Linked DNA regions of Homo sapiens. The protein of the gene in region 3 interacts with the protein of the main gene of each other region in a biochemical or structural test. Each region holds a gene or a part of one and is shown on either strand. Other genes may lie near its edges. The genes, in order: TRAF7, DGKH, SIPA1L2, GHRHR, REELD1, RPS6KA1 and AMOTL1.

Region 1 (3,500 bases), on a different chromosome or scaffold from region 3:
TCCTGGACGCCCTCGGCTCCCCCTCTGGGTTTCCAGGGCCTTGGGCCTCAGAGAGGATTACAGACCCCGGTGTGGCCCCAGCTCCGGCCTACCTCCCCGGGACCAGCAAGCGGGCAGCTCTCAGCGGAGCCTGTGGAGGGCCTGCGCCCACCCCGGCCCACCCCCGCCCGCCCCCCACTCACCCGTACTTGGAGTGGGGGCATTTGATGTGCTCGCACTCCTTGAGGTGGGCCTCCAGGTTCATCCTGAGCAGCGGGGGGCAGCTGGGGTTGTTGGGACACCGCACAGGCCTGTAGTCACAGCTGCCCTCGTGGTCCCTGTGCCAGGGCGGGATGCGGGGAGGCCTCAGCCAGAGCCCTGAGAAGCAGCCCCCAGGGAGGCAGAGGTGCCCAGGGAGGGGCACTTACTTCCGGGCGCTGAGCTTGATGGTGAAGGGGCACCCTCGGGGGTCCACCTCAAAGATGGGGGGCTTCCCGCTGCCCGCTACCCGGCAGCCGTGCCGGCAGTGGATGAAGAGCTCCCCGATCTGCTCGGCCACCGCGATGTTGTTCACCACCACGGTCAGTTTGACGTTGTCCACGGGACACTTCTCTGGGAGAGGAGGGCGTGCTGACCCTCACGGCCTGCCTGGCACACGCTCCCTCACCCGGGTGGGCATGAGCCTCTAATGGGGGCCAGATCTGTCCATCTGCGCCTCTGAGGCACGCAACATGGGAACGGGGGCACAGGTGGGCCACCAAGAAGGAGCAGCAGGTGCTGAGGGAGTGTCACCTGTGACACTCAGCTGTGCCCGGAAAAGTGTGGGGTGGGGCCAAGAGGGCAGAGGGCAGAGTGCGGAGAGGCAGGCAGGAGCGGGCGCCGTGCGGGAGGACGACAGCCTCGCCAGTGAGAAAGGCCTCCCCAGAGGGTGCCAACCCTGGCATGGGGAGCCTCGGCCCACACCCACTGTGGGGTCTCTGAGTCTGGACACACTGGAATTTGGGGTGTCCCCACTCTGCTCATGGAGGTCCCGAGCCTCAGCCTGAGCGTCCCTAGGACGGCTGCAGCCCCATCCCAACCCCAGCAGAGGCCAAACAGGGCCGGACGCTGTGCAGGGGACAAGGGAGAAGCCGCCCGCCTCTGCTCGGCAGCCATGGGCACGGTCGGCGTCAGGCCTGGGCCGGGGCACAAACCTACCTGACTTCAAGGCGCATCTCCTACAGAACGTGTGCTGTGGAGGCAAAGGGCGGGCTTGAGGGTGGCGCAGGGTCCTCTTTTTCCCTAGTCCATGGCCATGGCAGCCACAGGCCTCGCTGTACCCCAAGCCCAGTGCAGCCAGGACAGGCCTTGACCAAGGCCAGGGCGCCACAGCCCCGGCCCCCGAGAGCCCTGGGGTCCTGTGGGGGCCTCTGGCAGCAGGGGGGCTGGGAAGGGCGGCGGGCTCACCCCACACGTGGTGATCACGGGGTCTTTGAAGACGCTGCAGCAGAGCTGACAGCACAGCTTCACCGAGGGCTGCTCCGCAAACACCAGTGGCTCCTGGAACCAAGCGGGAAAGGCAGGCGATGGCGGGAGGCCACCCTCAGCCCCGCCACCACCCAGGCACCCAGGCGCTCTTGCTCCAGGCCTGGCTGTCCTCTGAGGACAGGGTCACGTCCTGAGAGAGGCCTGCTTAGAGCTGGGGGGCTTGATCGGGGCCCAGGAGGGAGAGCGAGGTCTGTGGCCCCAGAGGCAGGGCCCAACCCCGGAGGATGAGTTCAGCCGCCCAGCCTTGGCCGCCCTCGCCCGCCTCCTTCCTGGGGTGAGACTAGAAAGGGCCCTGCTGGAGCCCTGTGCTTCCCGCTGCCAGTTCCCGGGCAGCCCTGAGAAGGGGGAGTGGGGGAACATGCCCAGGGGACCCGGCCTGGTCCCTCGAGTCCCCACCACGGACCAGCAAGCACTGCAGTTCCCGTCAGGCCCCAGCCGCCCTCTCCCTGTGAGCTGGGCGGGCATGGCGGAGGGGAAGGTGCCTCCGTGCCACGGCTGCGGTGACAGCCCTGGAAGCCGCTCTGCGCCGAGTCCCCCACACCTACCGGCTCCTCCTCCTCCTCGGGCAGTGAGAATGTGGAGCGCAGAGACATGCTGGACTCTGAGTGCAGGGAGCGGACAGAGATGGCGGAGTCGGAGCGGCGGGGAGTGCTGATGGGGGGCTGTGTGGAGGGAGAGGCGCCTGTCGGGGGGCTCCGCACGGGGTCAGAGCCTCGGGGAGGACAGGACCCAGCCCGGCGGAAGCGCGAGGGCAGCAGCACCCCTGGGGCCACCCCGGTCCCTGCGGGTACTCTCCTCGTCCACGGGGGCCGTGGGTGGGCGTGGGGAGCTGATGCAACCCAGGTCCCTGCCTGCCCGCCTGGGCGGCCTGGGCCGGGGTGCTGGGCTGCCCGCTCACGCCTGCCACCTCTCTTTGTGTAAATGGAGAGACTTCCTGCTATTCAATTCCATATACCCGGGCTGCTTCCTGCTTCCCGTGGGGGAATGTGGGCCGTGAGGGGGCACCTCCACCAGCCAATCCTGGACAGCCGAGGCCGTGACCGCAGGATGGAAGGGCCAGGAATGCTGGCAGGGAGCGACGGCTGGGCTCCAGGTGCCCCCCGGGCCTGGCTGCTTGTCTGGCCTTGCTGGTGGGGGACACCAGGCCCAGCTGGGAGGCTCAGAGGGAAGGCAGGGCCAGGCCCCCAGAGAACCTCGGCTGAGCTTCCCGAGGGCAGGAGTGAGGGCCACAGGTGCCTGCCTCTGGCTGAGCCACCGACAAGGGAGCCTGGGGGAGGGGCAGACACTGTCCCTTCCTCCCCTCTGGCCTGGAAACCTCCAGAAGTTTCCAAGAGCCACACTGCCCAAGGCTTCTCTCCTGGTGCTTTGACTGCAGAGGGGCCCAGCTGCTGCTCTGCCGAGCCTCTGGCCCCCTTCCCGGCAGCCTGGGTATGAAACCCACAGAGCACAGAGGCAAACCAGTCCCAAGGCCGGCGGGGGGCATTGTGTGCCATGTACCCACCTCCCTTTGGGTCCCAAGGGCCCGTCTGCATGGAAGCAGCACATGGGGAACAGAAGGGAGTCAGAGAAAGTGAGTCACAAGGCCCCACAGCAGCAGAGGGAGCCCCAGGGGCGAGAGCAGAGCAGGAGCTGGCACGGGAACCACTCTCCCGGGCCTGCCCAATACTACCCCAGAGTCTCCCACCCTCTTGGGCGTAGGGGCTGACAGCAGGCAGGCCTGGGGGACGGGGGAAGGGCAGGAGGGGGACTCCCTGTGTGGGCCTATCAGCAAACAGAGAAGGTACCCGCCTCTCTTGAAAGCCACCGTGACCCATGGGGATAGCAGGTGATTATGGGAACCACAGACATGGAGGACTCGTGGCTTCGGGTTGTGGAGACCGAGGCAGGCAGAGGCCCAGGGGACGGGGCCCAGACATACCCAACTCGCCCTCGGCCTAGCACAGCGCCCGGCACACAGGTGTGTTTGTTCAATTAATTAAAAACTTCTTTTCTGG
Region 2 (4,290 bases), on a different chromosome or scaffold from region 3:
TTCCCCAAGAATCAGTATATGTGATAAAAGACGTAAATAATGAAGTCTGTGACATACATGAACAGTCCAGTTGCAGGAGGCGGGGTATGAGGTTGAAGCTCACTGGTCTCAGAATCTTATACCCTGATCTCAAGTGTTCATATATGAAAATGTTGATGAACTTACATGCACTCTAACATAGGAGAAATTGTAAAATGCTGAATTTCTGACATTCAATACACTTTTGAAATTCAAGCAATATTTGATTTCATAGTCAAAAATGATCTCTCATGGCAAAATGTATGTGCTAAATGTTTTTATTAGAAAGTCAGATAGAAAATCACAAATAATGTGCTTTTTAAATTTACTTGTAGTCTCCATAAGCATATAATCTTAGCTATTACAACGAGCGCATGAAACCTATAAAATACAGTGGTACTCCCAACAAATTTGTTGTTTGACATGATTCAATTCAATTTAGAGCCATCTCTCAGTTTTCTTTCGAACAGTATAAATCTACTGGTTAATCCTGATATAAGTATGCATGGAATTTTGACCATTTCATATAAATATGTAACATACACGTTTGTTTGTTTGTTTGCTTGTTTGTTTAAGAGACAGTCTCGCTTCATTGCCCAGGTTGGAGTGCAATGGCAAGATCTCAGTTCACTGCAGCCTTGAACTCCTGGGCTCAAGTGATCCTCAGGTACCTTGTTCTCCCAAAGTGCAGGGATTACAGGCGTGAGCCACCATGCCCGGCCCCTATACAATTTTTTTTTTTACCTGCCATTTTGCCCATCATTAACACAGTTTATGAACTTTTTTCAGAATTAAGATTTGAAATATTAAAAACACTTTTAGGAAAGTCCCTAACTTTGTAAAAGCCTTAATCTTAAAAAACACATTAAATGCCATATTCTTAATTTACTACAAACTCAAAAACGTCACTATTAAAAGGAGTTACAAGATGTACTCTTAACTAAAGTGACTGAATCCCTAACTCTTTAGTAAGTGCATCTTGTCAACAGTTGTTCTTGTGTGTTGTTCTTACACACATGTATTTCAGAAAATAAGGAGGCAGGCTACTACAAACATTAATCCACTAGCTTTTTTTTTGTCGCTCAGGCTGGAGTGCAGTGGCACAATCTCTGCTCGCCACAACCTCCGCCTCCCGGGTTCAAACGATTCTCCTGCCTCAGCCTCCCGAGGAGCTGGGATCTCAGGTGCACGCCTCAAAGCCCAGCTAATTTTTTTATTTTTAATAGACATGGGGTTTCACCATGTTGGCCAGGCTGGTCTGGAACTCCTGGCCTCAAGTGATCTGCCTGCCTTGGCCTCCCAAAGTGCTGGGATTACAGGCATGAGCCACCGTTACCGGCCTCCACAGGCACTGAATAAAAATTATGTTTCCAAATAGGAGTTCATTGACCTTAGGGAAAATTTTTCATAAAAATAACTGTAGAATGAATTTTTTGCAAATTTATTTTTAAAAACGGTACCCCAAGCCAATGATTTTGTGGTTCCGTTTTCAATATCCTCGTTAAATTTCCCTACTGATAACAGACTCTCTCTGTGAAGATTTTTAAATTACAATGAAAATTAGAATACATAAAAATCCTTTAATATCCATAAGCATTTGCTTTGGTATGTTCATGATCAAATTAAAAATTAACTTTGAGACCTCACAGGTCGACAGCACAAGCTTCATTAACAAGAGTAACACACCATCCTAATGTCCACACAGCACAGAGGTAACTTCTCATTATTAAAAAGAACCATGGACGCATGGTTCTGAACCCTGCCTGCACTTGGCGGGAACCTGCGACACGAAAGCCTGGCCAGCCCTTGGAGCCATGCAGGGTGCGGTTAAGCCGCGAACACCATGTCCCACTTGCCTGCCTCGGGGCTTCTGCCTTCCAGACCGCAGCAGGAGGCAGAGGGGCAGGAAAGGCTGACCGGTGTCACCTTCCACCCACCCTCTGAGTGGGCCTAAGTGGGAAAGCAGCAGGGCTCACTGCAGCGCAGGCTGGTTGGCCAGCACATGCGCACGCTCCCCCGAACGGCAGGGAAGAAAAATTGAAACTCTCCTTTTAAGTTCCCTAAGTAGGAACTCGCGACTGCGCGTCAGCTTTTTCCCACGCTCCCGCCGAGCCGCGGGTTCCCTGCACCCGCCTCTGCCAGTCGAACTCCCTGGGAGCCCAGGCTCGCAGCCTCCCGCGCAGCCGCCGGGAATCCGTCCCGCAGCACCGCGGTCCAGCGCCCCCGGGCCCCGCCCCACCCCTCCCCGCCCCGCCCGCGCCCCAGGCCCCGCCCCGCCTCACCGTCTCACCATCCCCGCCTTCCCCGCCTTCCCCGCCTTCCCCGCCTTCCCCGCCTTCCCCGCCTTCCCCGCCTTCCCCGCCTTCCCCGCCTTCCCGGGATCGCCCGGCGCGTTCCAGCGCCCCCGCGCCCTCTCCACCTCCCGCTTTCCACGCGGCCCTCAGGCCCGCCTCCTCCGCCCTACCTTGGTCCGGATCTGCCCCGAGGTAGACACTTTGCGGATCAGTTTCTGGGGTCCCTCTTGCTCCGCTTCGCTGTCAGACGAATCCTCTCCCGGCCCCGCCGAGGCAGCGGCGGAGGTGACCGCGGCGCCGGCTCCGGCGGCCGCTCCTCCAGCGGCGCCCGGAGGGTGGTGCTGGCCTCCGGCCCCTGCCATCCTCTCCGACTCCTGCGGGGACACAGCACCGCCCGGCGGGGGCGGCGGCGTTGGTCAGCGGGTGGGCTCTGCCCGAGCGGAGCCCGGAACCCCGTGCCCGGCCGCCGCCGCCATCTTCCGTTTCCCTAGCTACCCCCGCGAGGTAAGGGTCGCCCGGGGCAGGCGCCCTCCAGGCAGGGGTCCACCCGGCTCCTCCGCTCGGTTCCCGCCGGAGCGGCGGCCACGGTGGGACGCAGAGGTAACGGACCCCCGCCCGCCTCGGACCCCTGCGCACCCAGCCTCGGATAGGACCAGCGCGGGTAGAGAGGATGGGGTGACAGGGTTTGGAGCAACATCTCTTCCACTCCCTTACGGTCTGGGTCCCTAGGATGGACAGGAGGGTGGGGGAGGCAGGAAACCTCTGCAGCCCACCCCGTAGTGGCGATGCCCGCACACCCCCTCTCACTTCTGGACAGCAGGGGCAACGCCGATCCCTGGGGAAGAATGGGAACCTGGAGCTTCCTCCCAGCACCCTTGGGTGCACCCGCCACCTCCTGAACCCCGAATCTCTCCAGAGACACTTGGGCCTCGCCGCGCGGTTCCAGCTGAATAAAAGTCCCCTCTGCCACCAAGACAGTCGGGGGCTGCCCCTCGTCGGTTTCCCCACCCCCAGCCCCACTCCGAGGACCGTACCTCTCCCGCCTCCGCCAGGGCCGTCGGGTCCCCTCAGCTCTCCTGACGGCGGCGTTCAGTTTCTGGCCCACCCCCACCCCCATCCGGCGCACACGGAAGAGAAGAGCATTTTCCGGGAGGTTCAGCTCCGCTCTGAGAACTTTTCGTTCAGAAAGAGCGATCCCCTTCGGCTAACAGGAAACTGGGAAGGGCGTGGAGAAAGCGCAGAAACAAGAGACTACACGCAGCCCAAGACGACAGAACGCACAAGAAGTGTCTAAGCTGAAGCGCTAACCGAGATTGCCTGGAAGAAAACAATACACTCGAGCCATGCGAACACCAGTACCCGAGACAAAAAGCCTTGGAAGTCCTGGCAGAGCCACTCCCTAGCCCGGACTAGAGCAGGAGGAAGTGGGATCAACAGGCTGTAGCCACCGCGCACAACTCCCCTGCAAGCTGGCTGCGCGGGCACTTGGGAACCGCGGACTGGCAGCGGGTTGTGCACGCTCAACGTCAAAGAAGCCTCACAGGTGTGAGGGGGCTGCGGTGAGGGGGCTGCGAGAGAAGACATTAAAACGACAGATCCCTCTTGTCATCCAAAGAGAACACCAAACTGGTGTTAGCTATATTTTTAAATAGGACAAAAAGTCCCTGCCAGACTGTGGAGTCTCTCCACCTGGAGAAAGCATTCAATCTCTGTTATGTTCATGCCTTTCAGTACCATTCCTTTCGTATTTTTTCAGTTGACATGACCTTTAAGGTTCCTCCAAACTAAGGTTCTAATTTTTTTTTTTAACTTGCAGTCTTACTCCCAACAAGAAATTTGATATATTAGAGCTAACAGTTCTAAGAAGTTTTAAGAAATAGTATGCAATCCCAATACTGGACATCACACTGTAAATTAAATTCATTAAAATGTAAAATGTGTTTAGTTCAAATATTTAAAGACAGGAGACTGCTGCTAT
Region 3 (3,500 bases):
TCAAGTTTTAGTTACTTCAGTTCATGACTTTAGAAACGTCAATATTCTAAAACATCATCACTAACTAAAACCAGCAGTCCCCTTTCCGCATTTTGCTGAGTCGTGAACTGTCATGCCTGTCTGGGAAAAGCTGATTGGCATTGTGTGCACTTGTGGTAACCATGGAAACATCAGACACAGTGGTGATACATGAACCAGCCCCAGTCCCACAGCTGTACTTACTGTCATAGGTCTTATTAAATAGGTATCTATGTAGTCAGAGCATGTTTCATAGAAATGGAGTGTTCATTAAACTGAAACTTCATACATTGCCTCTGGGCTTTTGGGGATAGGAGTATGATACCTCCCAACTTGAAATTCCCACAGATAGGTGAGGTCATAGTCATCGGGTGATACTTAATGAGCCCATGTTTTTCTTTCATTGGATGTAAACTATGCTCGGTGAGTGCTTTTGAGGGCTGCATTAGTGGTGCTTTAATGTACCAAGTGGGATGCAATCCACCATTCTTCTTTCATGTTCCTTTTTGTGGAACTGCTGTTGACTCTCTCTCACTCTTGAGTAAGGTACATACACTGAGGCTTCCATTGCTTGGGGCTGCCCTCAGCCCCTAGGAGACAGGCCTAGTGGAGGAGAGGCAGCCCATAAGCACAGAGGGTCTGTCTGCTGCCTGCCAGAGCACCATCCTACACACTTGCCTTGTGAACAGATGGCCAAGGAGTCTGGCTGGCCTGCCCCCACCATGGATCTGAGTGGTCCTCACCACTCAGGCAAGCATAGGCAGTTGTCTGTCCTCAAGAGAAGGACCCTAGGGGACAGAACACTCCACAGTATGTCCCTAGGGCTGGTGCGTAGAGAACATTTAGAGTTTTCCTAAAGCTCTGACTTTCTGCCACTGCCCTTCCTGAACCTCAGAGTGGGCTCTTAAGCGTTAGCTTTCAAGTGCTTTGGGGTGTTTTTCTTTGCTTGGGATGAATAAATTGTCTCATGGTTTTTAGTGCTTGCTGGTTGAAACTTGTAATGGTCCACAAAGTCTTTACAGGTTTTCCATTGCAAAAATCCATCTAGAACGATGGGATTTATATGCTTAAAAGTCAAGTCAATTTACCTAATAAAGGAAAAACGGGAATTATCTGAGCCCATCTGAAGCTCTCAAGCTCTGGGTCAGTGACATCTAAGAAAGCAGGACACCTGTATCAAGAACAGATATGACTTAGAATGAAGAATGAAACCATTGCTTTGCTTCTGTTATTTTCTTTGCACTTGATGCAAATGTTAATTGTGATCAGCTCTGAACTTAAATGTGTCCTTGTCCTGTCACTTGGACAGTTTGAGGAAAAGGCAGAGAGAGACAGGCTGGGCTGCGAGGGCCCAAGGGAGAGGGCTGGCATGGAGGCCCATACGTGCACCTTTGGCAGAGCCCCATGGCAGCTTGGGCAGGAAGGGCATCTCTAACAGTCTCCTTCCCCCTTAGATAGTGACGAGAGGCTGCGAGACTGTGGAAATGACCCTGAGGAGGAACGGGCTGGGCCAGCTTGGCTTCCATGTGAATTTTGAAGGAATTGTCGCAGATGTGGAACCTTTTGGCTTTGCCTGGAAGGCTGGCCTTCGCCAAGGGAGCCGCCTCGTGGAGATCTGCAAAGTAGCCGTGGCCACTCTGACCCACGAGCAGATGATCGACCTGCTCCGTACTTCTGTGACTGTGAAGGTGGTCATCATCCAGCCCCATGATGACGGCTCGCCCCGAAGGTAAGGCGTGGGAGGCCCAAGTAATGCTCACTCCTCCTTTGCCTCTGTAGCAGGTGGCTGTCCTCAGTGCTCCTGCAAGGTCCTCAGAAAATGCAGTCAAGTGTGTCTTTGTACAGTGTTCTGGGATGTCACTCATTTGTACAATGTTGTTGGGATGTCACTCGTTCGAGGAATTGAAAAGGAGCTTTAAAATATGTAATAGATGATAAAAAATAATTTGCTAAGCATTTTAATGGAACATTGACTACATTAAAGCTGAGCTATTCTGAACTAAGGGGAAGAGCACCTGCCTGGTTCCCCTGGACCTCTTATATCTAAGAGGAAATAATTCTGTATCACAGCTCAGCCTTGAGCACATTAAATACTTAACTATTCAGTTAGAATTTCTTCCCATAACATGAAGCCATTGATTATTTAAAAAATATTTAACAGACCAATAGTTGTAGGTATGAAAGAATGTTGGAACAGCACAGGTACTCTCTGTGGTAAATACTCCATTCTCAATTGAAGCTTGAGAGATGTTGAACTGGTTCAGGGCGTTATCATAAACTGTCAGGAGAAATAGATGAAAAGGAACGGCTAGACTTGGAAGGTTCAGAGGCGGATAGGTGGAGGGCTGGGATAAGAACGGGGTTAGAAAGCAATACTATTACATTACTAATAGAAAATAATCATGCCCAACATAAAATATTAGGCCAAAAGGAGAAAGAATGCTAATTAAGAAGGAGCCGTTTATTGAGGCTGTGGCCCACTACTTGTGTTAATGCATGACTGGTGGTAGTATCTAGAGCACCTTCCCTCTATCTTCATTCCCAAATGGAGTTCGTACAGGCAGCCTTAAGAGCTCTGGCTTTTGAGAGACAAAGTATGCTTGGAATCCAGGAATTTGCTGTGTGGCCTGGGGCAACTCACACACTCTCTCTAAGTCTCACTTACTCTCTGTAAGATGGGATTATTATATCGCCTACCTCCTATGATTTCAATGAAGATGAAATAAAGTAACACATGTAAAGCACTTAGAACCTTCTAGCATAATTGCCCCACACATTTAATTTAGAAAAATAAAACTTTAGGGGCTGGGCGCTATGGCTCACACCTGTAATCCCAGCACTTTGGGAGGTCGAGGTGGGCAGATCGCTTGAGCCCAGGAGTTTGAGAGCAGCCTGGACAACATGGCAAAACCCCATCTCTTCAAAAAATACAAAAATTAGCCAGGTGCAGTAGTGTGCACCTGTAGTCCCAGCTACTCAGAAGGGGAAGGTAGGAGGATCCCTTGAGCCTGGGAGGTCGAGGCTGCACTGAGCTGAGATCGTGCCTCTGTACGCCAGCATGGGTGGCAGAGTGAGACTGCATCTCAAATAATAATAATAAATAAAACTTTAGCATATTCATTTTAATTTCTTTCATATGAAAAAATAAATTCTGATTATCCAAAGATAGTAGGATTGTTGGGTCTACTTTCTGGACTTACTAACCTAGGTCATACTCTCTCCTTTCTCTGTTTCCTTTCTTCCTCCTTTAAGCCAGCACTCTCCATTAGCACTTTCTACAGTGATCTGTGTCTGTACCGTTCAGAGCAGTAGCCACAAACCACATGTGGCTATTACGTACATGAACTGTAGTGCAACTTAGGAAACGAATTTTTCCTTTTAATTAATTTACATTTAATTGGCCACGTGTTGCTAGTGGCTGCCATATTGGATAGATCAGCTAAACCATGATCTCCTTTTAGGAAAAAAAGCCACTTACACTG
Region 4 (3,500 bases), on a different chromosome or scaffold from region 3:
GGACACCCACTGGAGCCCCATCCCAGTCTCCTCTACCCTACTCAGATACAGAACCTCCAGGCCCCTCCATGTTAGGCTGGGACCTGCAGCTCCTTGGGCCACCCAAGAGGGGATGTGGTGATATACAGTGAGGGTTAAGAGCACAGATTTGGTATCTAGACAGCCTGGCTTCTAATTTACTATCTATTTCCTGTGCAAATCTCCTCACACCTTAGCTTTTCATCTGTAAAAGGAAAAACCTCCAATACCTAGATCAAGTCCTCATCATAAGGATTAAATGGAAACTGCCTAAGACTTGCTTCTATTTTCACTTACCCCCATCCTTCCTGAGCTGAAGTCAATCCCTAGAGCTGTGACTTATTCAGCCACAGCTCTGTCTTGCAAAAAACACACACAGGCACCCGTGCATTCACTCACTCACTGCATGACTTGATCACCTGCCGGCAGGGGAGCAGGACCACCTCTGAGTTCAGTTGGCCCAGGTTTGATCCCAGCCCCACCCGTGTGCCACTGGGTGACCTTGCCAACTGTCTCTCCTCTACAAAATGGGATTAAAGTGATGCTTTCTTCTTCAAGCTGTTTTAAAAATTCAAGAGATAATGCCAGCTGACTCTTGAACAACAAAGGTGTGAACTGCTGAAGTCCATTTACACATAGATTTTCTTCCATCTCTGTCACCCCTAAGACAGCAAGATCAACTTCTCTTCCTCCTCCCCCTCAGGCTACTCAACATAAAGACGATGAGGATGAAGACCTTCATGATGATCCACTTCCATTTAAAAACAGCCAATTTTTATTTTCTCTATGATTTTCTTAAAATTTTTTCTCTAGCTTACTTTATTGTAAGAATACAGTATATAACACGTGTAACAGACAAATATGTGTTAATCGGTCATTTATGTTATTGGTAAGGCTTCAGGTCAACAGTAGGCAATCAATAGTTAAGTTTGGGGGACACAAAAGTTATACTTGAATTCTCAGCTGAAAGGGGGGTCAACACCACTAAACCCACATTGTTCAAGGGACAACTACATATGTAAAGCACTTAGTGCAATGCCTGGCACAAAATAAGTGCTCAGTATGAAGTATGATTAATTCTTTCATCAGTTAATTGAGGTCATGTGTTAGTTTGCTCCCTGATTTCGCTGTTCATTTCCAGCACACTTGCAGAGGATCTAGCAGGTGCTGGGTCTCCACATTCTGCCCAACTTCCCTTTAATTTCAATTGCCTCTTATTGTCTCCACCCCATCTCTCCCATGGTGCCTTCCCAGTTTCTTGGACATGGCCCAGGTCCTCCTGTCTTTGAGAGTTTGTTCACCCTGGTCTCTCCTCTTGAAATGTTCTCCTTCCCCATCTCCCTATTGTTGCTGCCAATACAGCTCCAGGGTCCTCTCCTCCCTGAAGCCCCCTCTCGTTCTCTCCTAGCTCTCAGCTTCCTCCACTTGGGAGTCCCCTAATCTGTGTGCATTCTGTCCCATGGGCTCTTCCTGAAGGAGGGACCCAGCTCCTCCCAGCCCCTTGCGTACACACCCCCAGCACAGACCTATGAGTGCTCAGGGAGGGGTGAAAGGAAAGGAAAAGGCTGTGCATAGTGAAACGTGGTCTAGGTTGGACTACAGAACGCGGAGTAGAGCATGCAATATGGGAAATGACATGGATCGACACCACAGTCCAGGAAAGGCGTGAGGACTTAGGGGGTGACATGGGAAAGGAGCATTTTCCTGTTCTGTAATTGGCCATGCGGGAGCCCCAGGGTCAGCCCACAGGGCAGGGAAGCCTGACGCAGGCACATCTGGGTCTGTAATCCTACCTCCTCTCTCCCCCACCTGCCCAGCCCCTTCACCCATGGCCATTACAGTGGAGAAGCTGCAGTGGTCAGTGTCGTCGCTGTGGAAAAGGGCAGCATCCTTCAGGAACACAGCTCCCGCCTTGAGGATAAAAGTGGTGAACAGCTGGGTGTGGACGTAGTTCCGGGGGCAGTGGAGCCTCCTGGGGGTAATGGGAGAAATGAGGAACAAGAAGCAAGCAGGGAGAGGGGATTCTGGTGTGCTGCAACTGGGCTGAACAGGGCAGGAGGTGAATCGAATCAAACTGGATGCAATCAAACTGAATTGAATTGAGCTGAACTTGAGGCTTCAGTTTAACCCTTGCAGGACAGCTGAGCAACCATTCCTGTGCTCAGGGTAAGTGTGGAAAGAGAGGAATATCTGGTCCCTGCCTCGAGGGTGCTCACAGTCTCAGGGAACAGAGGCAGAAACGGCAGGTACTGCCCATGGGAGCCCCCTGGATGATCAGAGACACTCATCCCCATGAGACCAAGAACAGCACAGGCCAGATGCAGTGCTCAGACTTCGAAGGCTGGAGGAGGGGGTGGGGTCTTAAAGGGGACAGTGGTCAGAGAGTTATAACAGTCAAGAGGGGCTCTGGGCAGGAGGCAGAGGACTGTCAGATGCAGATAGGAGCTGGGCTTTCTCAGTTATAAATACACTGAGAACAATGAGGAATTCCAAGCAAATAGAATGAGCACCACGTGAGCAAAGGGGCAGAGGTAGGAATGAGTTCTGGTGTTTGAAGAGATGGGTCTACATGGTGGGGAAAAGGGAAGGGAAAGTTAGACATGGGTATGGCGCCTAGATCTGGGAAGTTCATGGCTATGTAGGCAAGGAAGCAGACTTGACCCTCTGGGAAATAAGGAGCCAAGGAAGGTTCTTGAGCTGGTGATGAGGATGACAAACCTGAGAGCAACCAGGATGGTGATGGCCACGAAGAGGGCTACAATAGAGATGCTATGGCCCACGGTGTAGATAATCTTCACTGTGGAGAAGTAAGATTCCTGGGAAGGGCAGAGACAGAAGAAAGTCTCAGCTTCTGGGCCTTTGGAGGAAAGAGAGGCTTGACAATCAAGCAGGTGAAGCCTTTGCCATTCCACCCCAACACTCCCCATCTGGAGGCAGAGGTGTCCGCGAGTACCATGGAAAGCTCCCCCTGTGCACTGGAGCTTTAGTTTACAGCCTGCCTTCCACCTGACCTGCGGGTGAGGGAGGGGTAGTGGCGAGGAGTGGAGATGCTTAACATTCATGATGCTCTGAGGGTGAGGAGAGGCAGCCGCAGAAACTACATGTCCCTGGGGAATGACAAAAGCCCAAGAGGAAATCAGCTTGTTTATTGACATCCAGCTTGCTCACCAGCTTGGGAACACAATGTATCCAAATAAAGGAGATAGCCAGGGACACCTGGGGACAGCCACAGGCAGGCAGGCAAAAGGTTTCCGTGGCCAAGTGTTTGGATCAGTCAGAGTCCAGCCTGGCCCTGAAGATAGAGGGTGCAGGCAAGGGAAGGGAGCAGGGGCCTGGGCACTGGCCCCAATCCCAGCTCTCCTGTGGGGTCCAGGCAATCACTTCCTGTCCCTGACTCAGTCTTTCCATCTGAAAAATGGTTACAGTCATGCTTTACCTCTCAGAGATCAAGGGGACAGAGAAATGGGATGATGGGTTTGGGA
Region 5 (3,500 bases), on a different chromosome or scaffold from region 3:
TACAAGCCCCTGACCACGCAAGGGCTTATATCTTTTTAGAGAGTGAGTCCCTGGCCTGTCTGGGCTTGTACCTTCTTAACAGCCACCATTCAGGGAACACAGAAAGCACTGTGACCACCATATTTATTTCACCTCTGCCAAAAACTGCTTCTAGCTAGAAAAAGGAGTGAAATCCCACAAATCAAGACTTTTCAAAGCCCTAGATCTTTCTTGCCCTAATATTAACACTCAAAGTTTCTTTCTCTGGTGATAATGACTTGAACATCTGCTATGAGAAGAGACGAGATCACTGCCCTTCAATGCCCTCCACCATCTAATTTCCCATTTGTGACTGGCTAACCTGACAGCCCAGAGCATGAGAAAGAGCTTCACATGGAGCAGCAAGCAAGCAAGTGCAGGTTTTAGAGTCAGATTCTTTTCTGGGTTCAGTCGTCCACTAATTTCTGGCTTTGGGGAAGTCCTCCCAGAGCATTAGTTTCTTCATTTGCAAAATGAGGCCAGCATAGGATTGCTGAGGGGTTGACATGAACTCATTGAGGTGGAAGCGTGAAGCAGGTGCCTGGCACACAGGTACACAGGCAACATGCACAGAGGGTTTACCACAATGATGATGAGGATGACATGATGGCATTGACCAAAACAGTGTTGGCAGAAGTTTCTCTGGCCAGGGCTCCAGGTTCTTTATGGGGGTGGAGGAGGTACCCCTTTGCTCCAATGTTTTTAACACTCAAAAACGTTGAGGTGAAGAATAAAGCAGCCTAGCCCAGACATACAGAACATGGCAAACTGATAGTTTCAAATTCCTGCCTGAACTCTAAGAGCATTTGGATATTTCCTGCAGACCCGCTGTGTGCTGGGTATTGTTATAGTTGTTGGAGATGCAAACATAATGCAGACTTGTAATTGGTGTCCCTGAACTCAAAACTGGGAAGAGACACCCTTACATGTCAAACTACCTAAATTAATAAAGAGGCCGGGCGCTCGCGCCTGTAATCCCAGCACTTTGGGAAGCCAAGGCAAGTAGATCACCTAAGGTCAGGAGTTCGAGACCAGCCTGGCCAACGTGGGGAAACCCTGTCTCTCTACTAAAAATACCAAAGTTAGCAGGGTGCAGTGGTGCATGCCTGTAATTCCAAGCTACTTGGAGGCTGAGGCAGGAGAATCGTTTGAACCCAGGAGGTGGAGGTTGTAGTGAGCTGAGACTGCATCACTGCACTCCAGCCTGGGTAGCAGAGAGAGATTCTGTCTCAAAATTAATTAATTAATCAATTAATACCAGAGCTAAGGAAGCAATTATATTTGCCGCTATGGTCTTAATGTGCCCCCCTCAAAATTCATATGTTGAAATCAAATCCCCAATGCAATAGTGTAAAGAGGTGGGGTTTTTAGCAGGTGCTTAAGTCATGAGGGTGGAGCCCTTATGAATGGGATTAGTAGCCTTATAAAAGGGGACTGAGGGAGCTTGTTCACCCCTTCCACCATGTGAAGACAGCAAGAACGCACCATTGTTGAGGCACAGATCATCCCTCCCTCACCAGACACTTATTCTGATGGTGCCTTCATCTTGGACTTCCCAACCTCCAGAATGTAGGCAATACATTTCTATTGTTTATAAATTATTCAGTCTAGGATGTTTTGTCATAGCAGCTGGAATAGACTAAGATACTTGCCTACCAAGAAGTATAAGGAAAAGTTTCACAAAGGAGATATTTGAACTGTGCCTTGAAAGACGCAGAGAACTGTTGTGTGGAACAGTCCAGTTTGAGGAAGTGTCAGAAGGGAAGGCACTAAAATATAAAAGTAGACCATACCTAATGGGGTGGAGGAGGACTCAAAGTGTCTTGGTCTATTGGGAGATAAGTTTCAGATATACAATATACTAATTTCCCAATTTTGAAAATTTATAATTTATACTTGCCTACGAATTCTTTGTACAGTTAAGAAACCTATTTCACTTTATTAGATGAAATAAGGTGAAATAGATTTCTTAACTGTACAAAGACAAACTTCCCAGAATACATACACACACACATGCACACACGCATGCACATAAATACATACATGCGTGCACAAGCATACATACATGTTTCTTTTTCCTTTGGGAATCACTAGGGTTTGGGTAGTGGAACAAATGGGGAAGACAGGCTGGGGCCAGAAGGAGAGGAATGTGGGCAGTGTAATGAGGAGGTTACCCTGTAAACTGCTTGGGCTGGAGGCTGCAACCCCCAGCGGACAAGGTTTCCAGCGGAGTCAGGCATAGAAAGGCCCAAGGCTCCACATGACACTTCTTCCTGAAGCTTCACTTTTATTCATATTCATGTTCAAACAAACATGGTTATACTTGGGATTAAAACATGATACTTGCATCATTCATAAAATAAAACATGAGATTTCAAACATATGTCAGGGGTGCAGGGTCTTCTCCAGGCCATGGTCTCAGGCTCCGAGATCTTTACTCTGCTTTTAGGAGTGTCTTGGTGGGAAGGTTGGAGGAGTTGTGCTGGGTAATAGAAGAAGACAAAGGTTGTGGGGCAAAGGCAGAGAATGGAGGGTGGTCCCCACTGTCTCTGTACCTGGGTCTGCTAGACTGAGAAGAGGCAGGGATTCTGATTGGATTCTGGCCTTAACATATTAGCAAAGAGTAAAGGAAAGAATAAGCGAAGAGGAGAATGAATGGATTAAGGGTAGGGTCTTGTGTGCATGTGTCTGGATGCTTTTACGAGTGCTTGTGTTCATAGCACTTAACTAGAAATAAACAACAAAAAGGAGTTCCATACCACCAGGGATTTTCAGATAGGTCAAACAGCCTCTAGCTGGCTAGTGGTTTTCCTTTGTTTTGTTGCTTTTCTTTTCTTTTTTCAGGAGTTCATGGACTAATGGAATATAAAGCCATGTAGTGAGCAAGGAAAAATCCCTTCCCATTGAAACAGTGATTCCTGATTCTGTTCTCCAACCCAGGTTGCAAAGAGCCACCTACCTACTATGAAAAGTAACAATAAAAACTGGATGCGTTTTTATGAGAAAAGACGAAGAAAAGCTCATTTCTTTTTTGTGCTCCCTGCGTAGCTTCAGGGGACTAAGGAAAACAGCAGAAATATTGTGAGGACTAGTAAATGTTGGGGGAAGAGGTGTATGCTGTTTTTTGGTATTGCAGCACAGCTCTCACTGTCCACCCTGGGGCCTGACTTAATGTGTTAGGTTGAGCCAGACAAAGTGTGTTTGCTGCAACAAACAAAGCAACTGCAAGCGTTCCCTCCCTCTCACTGCTGCGTTATCACATCCCCAAGAACTGCTGCAGTTGGCCACGGCAGGTGTTTATTGCTTGTTTTGCAGGAACAGGAAACTGGCAGTAGTAACTTTTAAGTGAAAATAGATAACTGTAAAAATAATGATGACAACCAGCCTGGCAAATACAATGACAAGCTGTACCTGGAGCAGCTCCTTCAACATCGCCCAGCCTCTGGTGAAGGTTTGGCATCAGCAATCTGGGCTCCATGCGG
Region 6 (3,500 bases), about 210 Mb from region 3:
CAGTGAGCCGAGATCACGCCACTGCACTCCAGCCTGGTGACAGAGTGAGACTCTGCCTCAAAAAAAAAAAAAAAAAAAAATTGGCCAGGCGTGGTGGCTCATGCCTGTAATACTAGCACTTTGGGAGGCTGAGGAAGGCGGATCACCTGAAGTCAGGAGTTTGAGACCAGCCTGACCAACATGGAGAAACCCTGTCTCTACTAAAAATACAAAATTAGCTAGGCGTGGTGGCGTGGGCCTGTAATCCCAGTTACTCGTGAGGCCGAGGCAGGAGAATCACTTGAACCCGGGAGGCAGAGGTTGTGATGAGCCGAGATTGCACCATTGCACTCCAGTCTGGGCAACGAGAGTGAAACTCCGTCTCAAAAAAGAAAAAAATATATATACAAAAATTAGCCAGGCGTGGTGGCATGTGCCTGTAATCCCAGCTACTCAGGAGGCTGAGGCAGGAGAATTGCCTGAACCTGCGGAGCGGAGGTTGCAGTGAGCCGAGATCACACCACTGCCCTCCAGTCTGAGCGATAGAGTGAGACTCCATCTCGGGAAAGAAAAAAAAAAAAAAAAAAAAAAGAACAGGCTTTTGGACATGGCTGCCTAGGTTCATTTTGGGCAGTGTGTTTCAACTAAGTTTATCACAATATTGATTACCCCTTGACTGAGACCTCTCATGTGTCCTTTGACTTTTTTTTAATGGGACAGGGTCTCACTCTGTCACCCAAGCTGGAGTGCAGTGGTGTGATCTTGGCTCACTGCAACCTTTGCCTCCCAGGTTCAAGCGATTCTAGTGCCTCAGCCTCCTGAGTAGCTGGGATTACAGACACACCAAACCTGGCTCATTTTTTTTGTATTTTTAGTAGAGACAGGGTTTCACCATGTTGGCCAGGCTGGTCTTGAGCTCCTGACCTCAAATGATCCACCCACCTTGGCCTCCCAAAGTGCTGGGATTACAGGCATGAGCCACCGCACCCAGCCTTGACTTTTATTAAAAGGAGAGGTGGAAGGCTAGGGAGTGCTTACTAAGACCAGACAAAATGTCTGAGCAATACACACAATGCAAAACTAAAGGCTTTTTTGGTCCATGTACTGGATTGGCAGTTTCCTCTCCAGCCTCATAGTCCCAAAGCCTTCACTAGTCCATCCATCTAGTATGAATTCTATTCATTCGTCACTGCCATTCCAGAATTGATGCTCACAGCTGCTTATCTTAGGAGATCTGGCCAATGTACTCCTCCTGCATGTCTTTCCGGAGTCTTGTTCAGGACACAATCCTTGGCCCTTGCTACAAGTAGAAGCTGCAGCTGCCTTCCAACACACCTTCTATGTCAGCACACAGGGCTGCAGGAGCTGGTCCCCTTCTTCTGTTTTAATTTTTGTGTTTTCCTCATTAGACATGACAAGGACCACACCGGAGTTAACTATTTTGGTCACCTTACATTTTCTTTTTTCTTTTTTTTTTTTTCTGAGATGGAGTTTCGCTCTCATCGCCCAGGCTGGAGTATGGTGGCGCGATCTCGGCTCACTGCAATCTCCACCTCCTGGGTTCAAGCAATTCTTGTGCCTCAACCTCCTGAGTAGCTGGGACTATAGGTGTGCATACCAGCATACCCAGATAATTTTTGTATTTTAGTAGAGATGGGGTTTTCCCATGTTGGCCAGGCTGGTCTCGAACTCTTGACCTCAAGTGATCCACTCGCCTCAGCTTTCCAAAGTGCTAGGATTACAGGTATGAGCCACAGCACCCAGCTTACCTTACATTTTCAAACCACCTCTACACTTTAGTTCAGGCAAACAGTTTCTCCTTCCCAGGGTCCCCTTCCTCAAACATTTTTGGTCTAGAGAAATCCACTCATCCTCCAAGGCTTCCCGCTCCTTAGGTGTCCCCTTGGCCTCTGGGCCCACCCTCTACAAGACTACACCACCACTCCCAGCTCCCCAGCGCGTCGGATATCCACGCACACCAGTCACAGCACCGGCTGCACCACACTGTCGGGTATGCTTAGCCTCTCCTGCCCAGCCTGTGAGCCCTTCACAGCAGGGACCCAGGCTTTTCATCTTTCTCCTCCCTCTGAAGCTGCCACCATACCTCCTGGGGGATGACTTCCACACCCACCAGGCTGGCCTTAGGATACCAAAGCCACCCATAACGTCCTTAAGGCTGACGCCTCCTACTGCCCCCACTACCTCCCCAGCTAGGATTTGGCTCTGACTGGGATCAGAGGTGCACACCACCACACCCAGCTCATTTCTTTGTATTTTTAGTAGAGACGGGGTTTCAACATGTTGGTCAGGTCTTGAACTCCTGACCTCAAATGACCCGCCCACCTCAGCCTCCCAAAGTGCTGGGATTACAGGTGTGAGCCACCGCGCCCGGCCTTGACTTATTTAAAGAGAGACTTGGCTATGACTCTGCCGGGTCAGTGGTCACACTGGTTCCCAGGCCAAGTGGTCAGTATCCAACCCAAAGCCCACTACCAACCATCTTCACACCCTTTGTAAGTCCCCAGAACTCTAACCTTGGCTCGGGGCTCCCTTCTGAACCTCTCTGCCATCCAGCTCTGTGGCCCTGCCTGGACTCACCCTCTCTTGCCTAGCCCAGCTGCCTCCCTGGGCTCCCTGCCTCTTCACTCACGCCCTTCTCTCAGGCCCCTGAGTTAGGGGCCACAGAGGTCTCCCCCAGACTCTTCTAGCATCAACAGTCAGAATGCCTCTGCTTGACCAGCTTGGTAGTTGAGGGCCCCGCCCCCTGACAAACACATTGCATTTACCCTATTACCACCTTCCAGACCTTCACAGCCAGTCACTAGCACTTGGCTTAGGGGGAGGAGGATTGGCTGGCGAGGGATAGCTGAGAAATAGGCCTGTTTCTCCACCTTTGAACTAGGTGCTCCTGAAGACAGAGCTGTCTCCCTTGCCAGACCCAAGGCCCTTGAAGTCTGGGCTGCCTCCCTCAGCCAAGCCTGGGTTCTGCACAGGGAGGTGTCCCCACTCACCTTTCAGCGTTGCCTTCTTCAGCACCTTCATAGCATACAGGTGCCCACTGTCAGGCCGGGTGACTTTCCGCACCAGGAAGACCTGAGAAGGCAGAGCAGGAAGCAGGGCAGAAGATGGGAGAGGTCTGAGTCCAGGCTGACCTCTATCTTCTCTGAGCCCCAAGCTGACCTTTTTGCTCTCCCTGGGTACCAAGGTGACCTCTGATCCTTTGGGCCCCTAGGTGACCCTTGACCCCCACCTCTAACATGACGAGTGTTGCCTTCACAGCTATGGGCTCATGACTCACTTTGCCAAAGGATCCCTGGCCCAGAACCTTGAGGAGCTCGAAATGGGATGGATCAGCCTTCTCAGAGCCAGCCTTGACGTGGTGCGTGATGGAGATCTCCTTGAGGACGCCCTCATCCTGATGGAGGGACAGAGCTGGTGGGCATGGTGGGCCCCATCCAGGCAGCAGGAGGCTCCCCTGCCCAAGTCCATTCCCACCAGACCACAGCAGATGGAACCTAAAG
Region 7 (3,500 bases), on a different chromosome or scaffold from region 3:
CCACCCATGTCCATCCTCAACCCTTTCCCCCATGGATGAGGCCTCCTGTGCCCTCTTCCCACACCCTATGGCATGGGGTGAGCTCCATGCTCAGCCTCTCAGAGCTCCTCAGTTTTCCTGTCTGCACAACAGGTACTCCGATGCTCAGTGTGAGACTAGAGGAGGTGATGAGCAGGTGGCACAATGTGCAGTGCCTATGGCCAAGCAGAGCCCCAGAGGGCCAGTTCCCACTCCTCTGTCGTACTGGGTGGCACAGAGGCTGGCCAAAGCCACTGATTTCTTCCCTTCCCTCTCCAGCTTACACCTCTTGTCTTCCTTCTGTCACCTCAATTTGGGGAGGCTATAACTTCACCGGGGTTACACACCCAAGACCAGTCCATTTTAGGATCCAAGCAAAGTTTCCTGAGTAGCACTCTCTTGAGTGTTTCATTTAGAAGGTACTTGGAAGAGGTACCCCCCTTTCTTTCTTCCTCTAAGTAAGCATGAGCAAAGGGAACTGGGAAAACAGCGATCCAGCTGACCTGGAGGTACAAAAACATCAGGACCCTGTAGGAGCATCTCTCTGATGGCCCGATGAGCTTCTCCTCTTTTCTAATCCAGCATCTCTTAGATTTGTAAAGGAAGCCAGTGTCTGCAGAGCTGAATATGCAATGTCACAGCAGAGGTCTAATGGACCCACCACCTAACACACTCCTGCCTCTTTTCCGTGGCACTTCTGTCTCACTTTGAATAAACTGCCTCAAAACTGAAACCCGGAAAAACCTGACAACACTGTATATACAACTGGCCTGGTAGGTTACAAAAGAAGTTCACAACAGAGGCAACCTGGTGCCACGGAGGTCTGGATGCTGATCGAGAGCAAGCAGAGGCGTGCGCGGGGGAGGAAAGAGTGTGAATACGCTCATGAGCCTCAATACAAGAAGCTATACGGGAGGCTGGTGAGATTCTGGAAACCACTGAGACAACTGTCTGTAAATTGTCATCTGTTTCCTGGAGTGCTGTCCTAAGTCTTCCCCAAACAGAGCAATGGAATTTGGAAATGTCAAGCTCCTTGCAAGACAGCCGATGTGAAAGACAAAAAAGCAAGTGCCACGATCTTAATGCAATATGTCACAGGGACCCACGGAATCTCCTGCCTCCTCAAAGCTTGCTTAGTTCACAGTCAGAATGAGGTTCGCAGCTGCAACCCAGCTATGCAAAGGTGAAGCAGCCAGGAAGTCGGCACGTGGCTTTGTCCTACTGGTCACTATCAAACACAGTAGGAATGATGACAGTTCAGGTACTGGTCTCATAAATCCCATACCTAAGGAATTCTGCTATGTCTTATTAAAAAGAAAAAAATGAAGGAACAACAAAAAATTAAAGACTGTAAAGCAGAGACAGAGATGAACTCAGAAGTTAGGATGGATGGGGACCGAGATCATAATCTATCCTGTTTAGAAAATACTGCAGAATTCAGAAAAGCTAAGAAGCCCAATCATCTCTTGAAAATCCAAACCAAACAGGTAATTAGGTGAAGACCAACTTTCATATTCCCCTCGCCCTCGATGCTTCTTCTCACTGCCACACTCACACTCACGGGACACCCCATGGTTGGCACAGGTGACACTGCATTATGCCAAGACAGGCTCTCAAGATTTCCTGGAGGCTTTTCTTAAATCAAACATGCTAAGAGGCAAGGAGAATGGGGGTATTCCAAGGATGATCCACATTTGGGTTTATCTGTTTATAATCAGAGAATGGGGGTACACAGGCCCTCCCCAAGAGATACATTTTCTGTACAATGAAAAATTCAGTTTCCTATTTCTTAACTTTGTTTGCAAACCTACACGCCTCTTCTCTCTTCCACCATGTGTAATAAAATCCATCGCATTCTCTTCTATCTTCAGTCATGTAGTTTTTGTGTTTAACATTTATAAAATGTGTTCTTATGAGTCTGAAATCTTTATCAGTTCAAATCATTCCTGATTTCCCATCTACAACCTTCTAGGTCTTTCTTCTTTCTCTGCCGCTTTCCTTGTTTGTCAGTGTTCTGTACTGAAATTCCACAGGGATGGCAGTTAGATGAGGACTTCCATCATCTCTCCATCAGGGAACTCGGGCTTGTGCAGCAAGCTGCTGACCCGGCCTCTGTGGTCAGGCGACTTCCCATGGCCAGGAGAGTTCTCTGCCAAATAGAGGGGAAACATCAGCTGCCCATTCCTCAGGAGGGGCATAGGCTTTCCAGGTTCTCTAAAATGGACCCACGTCCGATACCACTGCACACCCAGGATTCTCACCACAGGGCATGTGAGATGATCCAGCCCACAGTGGGAACATGCAGAATGACTGGGCCAGGATTCAGACACAAATACAAACCAGGATGGTGAAGGGAGAGGATTCAGAAGGTGAGGATGACAGTGGGACTCTGTACAGGAGCCCCTCACACCCTCTACTCAAAACTATCAGGTGCATATTCTGAGCTAGGCACTTTTGACAGGTTCTCTGGCTTACTTGGAAAAGAATCACATCTTTAAAAAGTGACAACATTGTATTTACTTGTCTACTTTGAAAAATGAAATAAACAACCCCCTTGGAGGAAACAGTTAACTTAGGGCCCACAGAGCCTGCACCTCCTCAAAAGAATTCCTGAAAAGGGAGGTCCCCATGACCATGATTAGTCTCAGGTTTTAGGATGTGGAGAAGCCAATGGTAGGCTGGGTACTCTCTGGCTACTTAAAGCCTTACCCATTTAAGAACATTTGTGGGATCCCACTGACCATGGCCATGGTACTCCTTTGCTTAAGAGGAGTGCCTTAAGAGGCCAGGTCTATTCTTACCCAGGACACTTAGGGACTCACTGCAAAGATCACCTCTCCCAAGTTGTCTTCCCGTAAATATTTTAAACAGCTCGTTAGTCCTGGCCCAAGTGCTGTGCCACACGTTAACCGACTCTGCAGGTCAATCTACCTTCTCCTTCCATCACAATGTCCTCCACTGAGGCCAGAATCCCTGGTAAGTTAGAGCCCTGAAGGCAACAGTGAACTTGTGCCTTTGATGTACCTGGTGCCTAATTCTGGCTCCCAAACATACCAGAGGGCATTCAGCCCCTTAGAGGGTCTGTTGTCACTCCATCCGGGGAAAGGTTAGTTAAAAAGTATGCATTGCCAGGGTAGTCTCAAGCCGTGCACTCATTTCAAATAGTAATAAACTAGATGTGTCTATATGCATATTTATTCCCGTAATAAGAAAGGGCACACATATCCTAAGTGCATTAGAATAGCATCCCCATAGAGTAAGAGCTGATGGGTGCCCCTGCTTCCTCTCTAGCTCAACAAAAGATTCTCTTAGGCCAGACAGTTCCACAGTTTTCAGGGGCATCAAGGTGGGGTAGCCCACATACCCAGTTTCTCTGCGGTCCCTTTGGCCGCTGGGTGTTTCAGGACGGGGCTGTGAGCAGGGGTCGTGCTCAGCCGGCCGCGGCTGGGAAGGGAGGCCATGCTGGGCCAGAAGAGCTCGGC

Evidence for each region.
Region 1: the proteins of SIPA1L2 (region 3) and TRAF7 interact in a test that uses a peptide from one of them, tested with the Homo sapiens proteins (one large-scale study listed by IntAct).
Region 2: the proteins of SIPA1L2 (region 3) and DGKH interact in a test that uses a peptide from one of them, tested with the Homo sapiens proteins (one large-scale study listed by IntAct).
Region 4: the proteins of SIPA1L2 (region 3) and GHRHR interact in a test that uses a peptide from one of them, tested with the Homo sapiens proteins (one large-scale study listed by IntAct).
Region 5: the proteins of SIPA1L2 (region 3) and REELD1 interact in a test that uses a peptide from one of them, tested with the Homo sapiens proteins (one large-scale study listed by IntAct).
Region 6: the proteins of SIPA1L2 (region 3) and RPS6KA1 interact in a test that uses a peptide from one of them, tested with the Homo sapiens proteins (one large-scale study listed by IntAct).
Region 7: the proteins of SIPA1L2 (region 3) and AMOTL1 interact in a test that uses a peptide from one of them, tested with the Homo sapiens proteins (one large-scale study listed by IntAct).

What each region holds. Positions count from the first base shown.
Region 1 is NC_000016.10:2,169,282-2,172,781, reverse strand, and holds part of TRAF7 (E3 ubiquitin-protein ligase TRAF7), read right to left. Parts: intron 2,169-3,500; coding exon 2,052-2,168; intron 1,519-2,051; coding exon 1,426-1,518; intron 1,211-1,425; coding exon 1,177-1,210; intron 592-1,176; coding exon 408-591; intron 318-407; coding exon 183-317; intron 1-182. UniProt on the Homo sapiens protein: E3 ubiquitin and SUMO-protein ligase that plays a role in different biological processes such as innate immunity, inflammation or apoptosis. Potentiates MAP3K3-mediated activation of JUN/AP1 and DDIT3 transcriptional regulators.
Region 2 is NC_000013.11:42,047,158-42,051,447, reverse strand, and holds the start of DGKH (diacylglycerol kinase eta), read right to left. Parts: upstream 2,801-4,290; 5' UTR 2,675-2,800; coding exon 2,483-2,674; intron 1-2,482.
Region 3 is NC_000001.11:232,459,134-232,462,633, reverse strand, and holds part of SIPA1L2 (signal-induced proliferation-associated 1-like protein 2), read left to right. Parts: intron 1-1,472; coding exon 1,473-1,747; intron 1,748-3,500.
Region 4 is NC_000007.14:30,970,453-30,973,952, reverse strand, and holds part of GHRHR (growth hormone-releasing hormone receptor precursor), read right to left. Parts: intron 2,835-3,500; coding exon 2,737-2,834; intron 1,991-2,736; coding exon 1,858-1,990; intron 1-1,857.
Region 5 is NC_000004.12:146,224,538-146,228,037, reverse strand, and holds part of REELD1 (reelin domain-containing protein 1 precursor), read right to left. Parts: coding exon 3,430-3,500; intron 1-3,429.
Region 6 is NC_000001.11:26,546,761-26,550,260, reverse strand, and holds part of RPS6KA1 (ribosomal protein S6 kinase alpha-1), read right to left. Parts: intron 3,395-3,500; coding exon 3,278-3,394; intron 3,073-3,277; coding exon 2,991-3,072; intron 1-2,990. UniProt on the Homo sapiens protein: Serine/threonine-protein kinase that acts downstream of ERK (MAPK1/ERK2 and MAPK3/ERK1) signaling and mediates mitogenic and stress-induced activation of the transcription factors CREB1, ETV1/ER81 and NR4A1/NUR77, regulates translation through RPS6 and EIF4B phosphorylation, and mediates cellular proliferation, survival, and differentiation by modulating mTOR signaling and repressing pro-apoptotic function of BAD and DAPK1.
Region 7 is NC_000011.10:94,869,356-94,872,855, reverse strand, and holds part of AMOTL1 (angiomotin-like protein 1), read right to left. Parts: coding exon 3,383-3,500; intron 2,168-3,382; coding exon 2,061-2,167; 3' UTR 1-2,060. UniProt on the Homo sapiens protein: Inhibits the Wnt/beta-catenin signaling pathway, probably by recruiting CTNNB1 to recycling endosomes and hence preventing its translocation to the nucleus.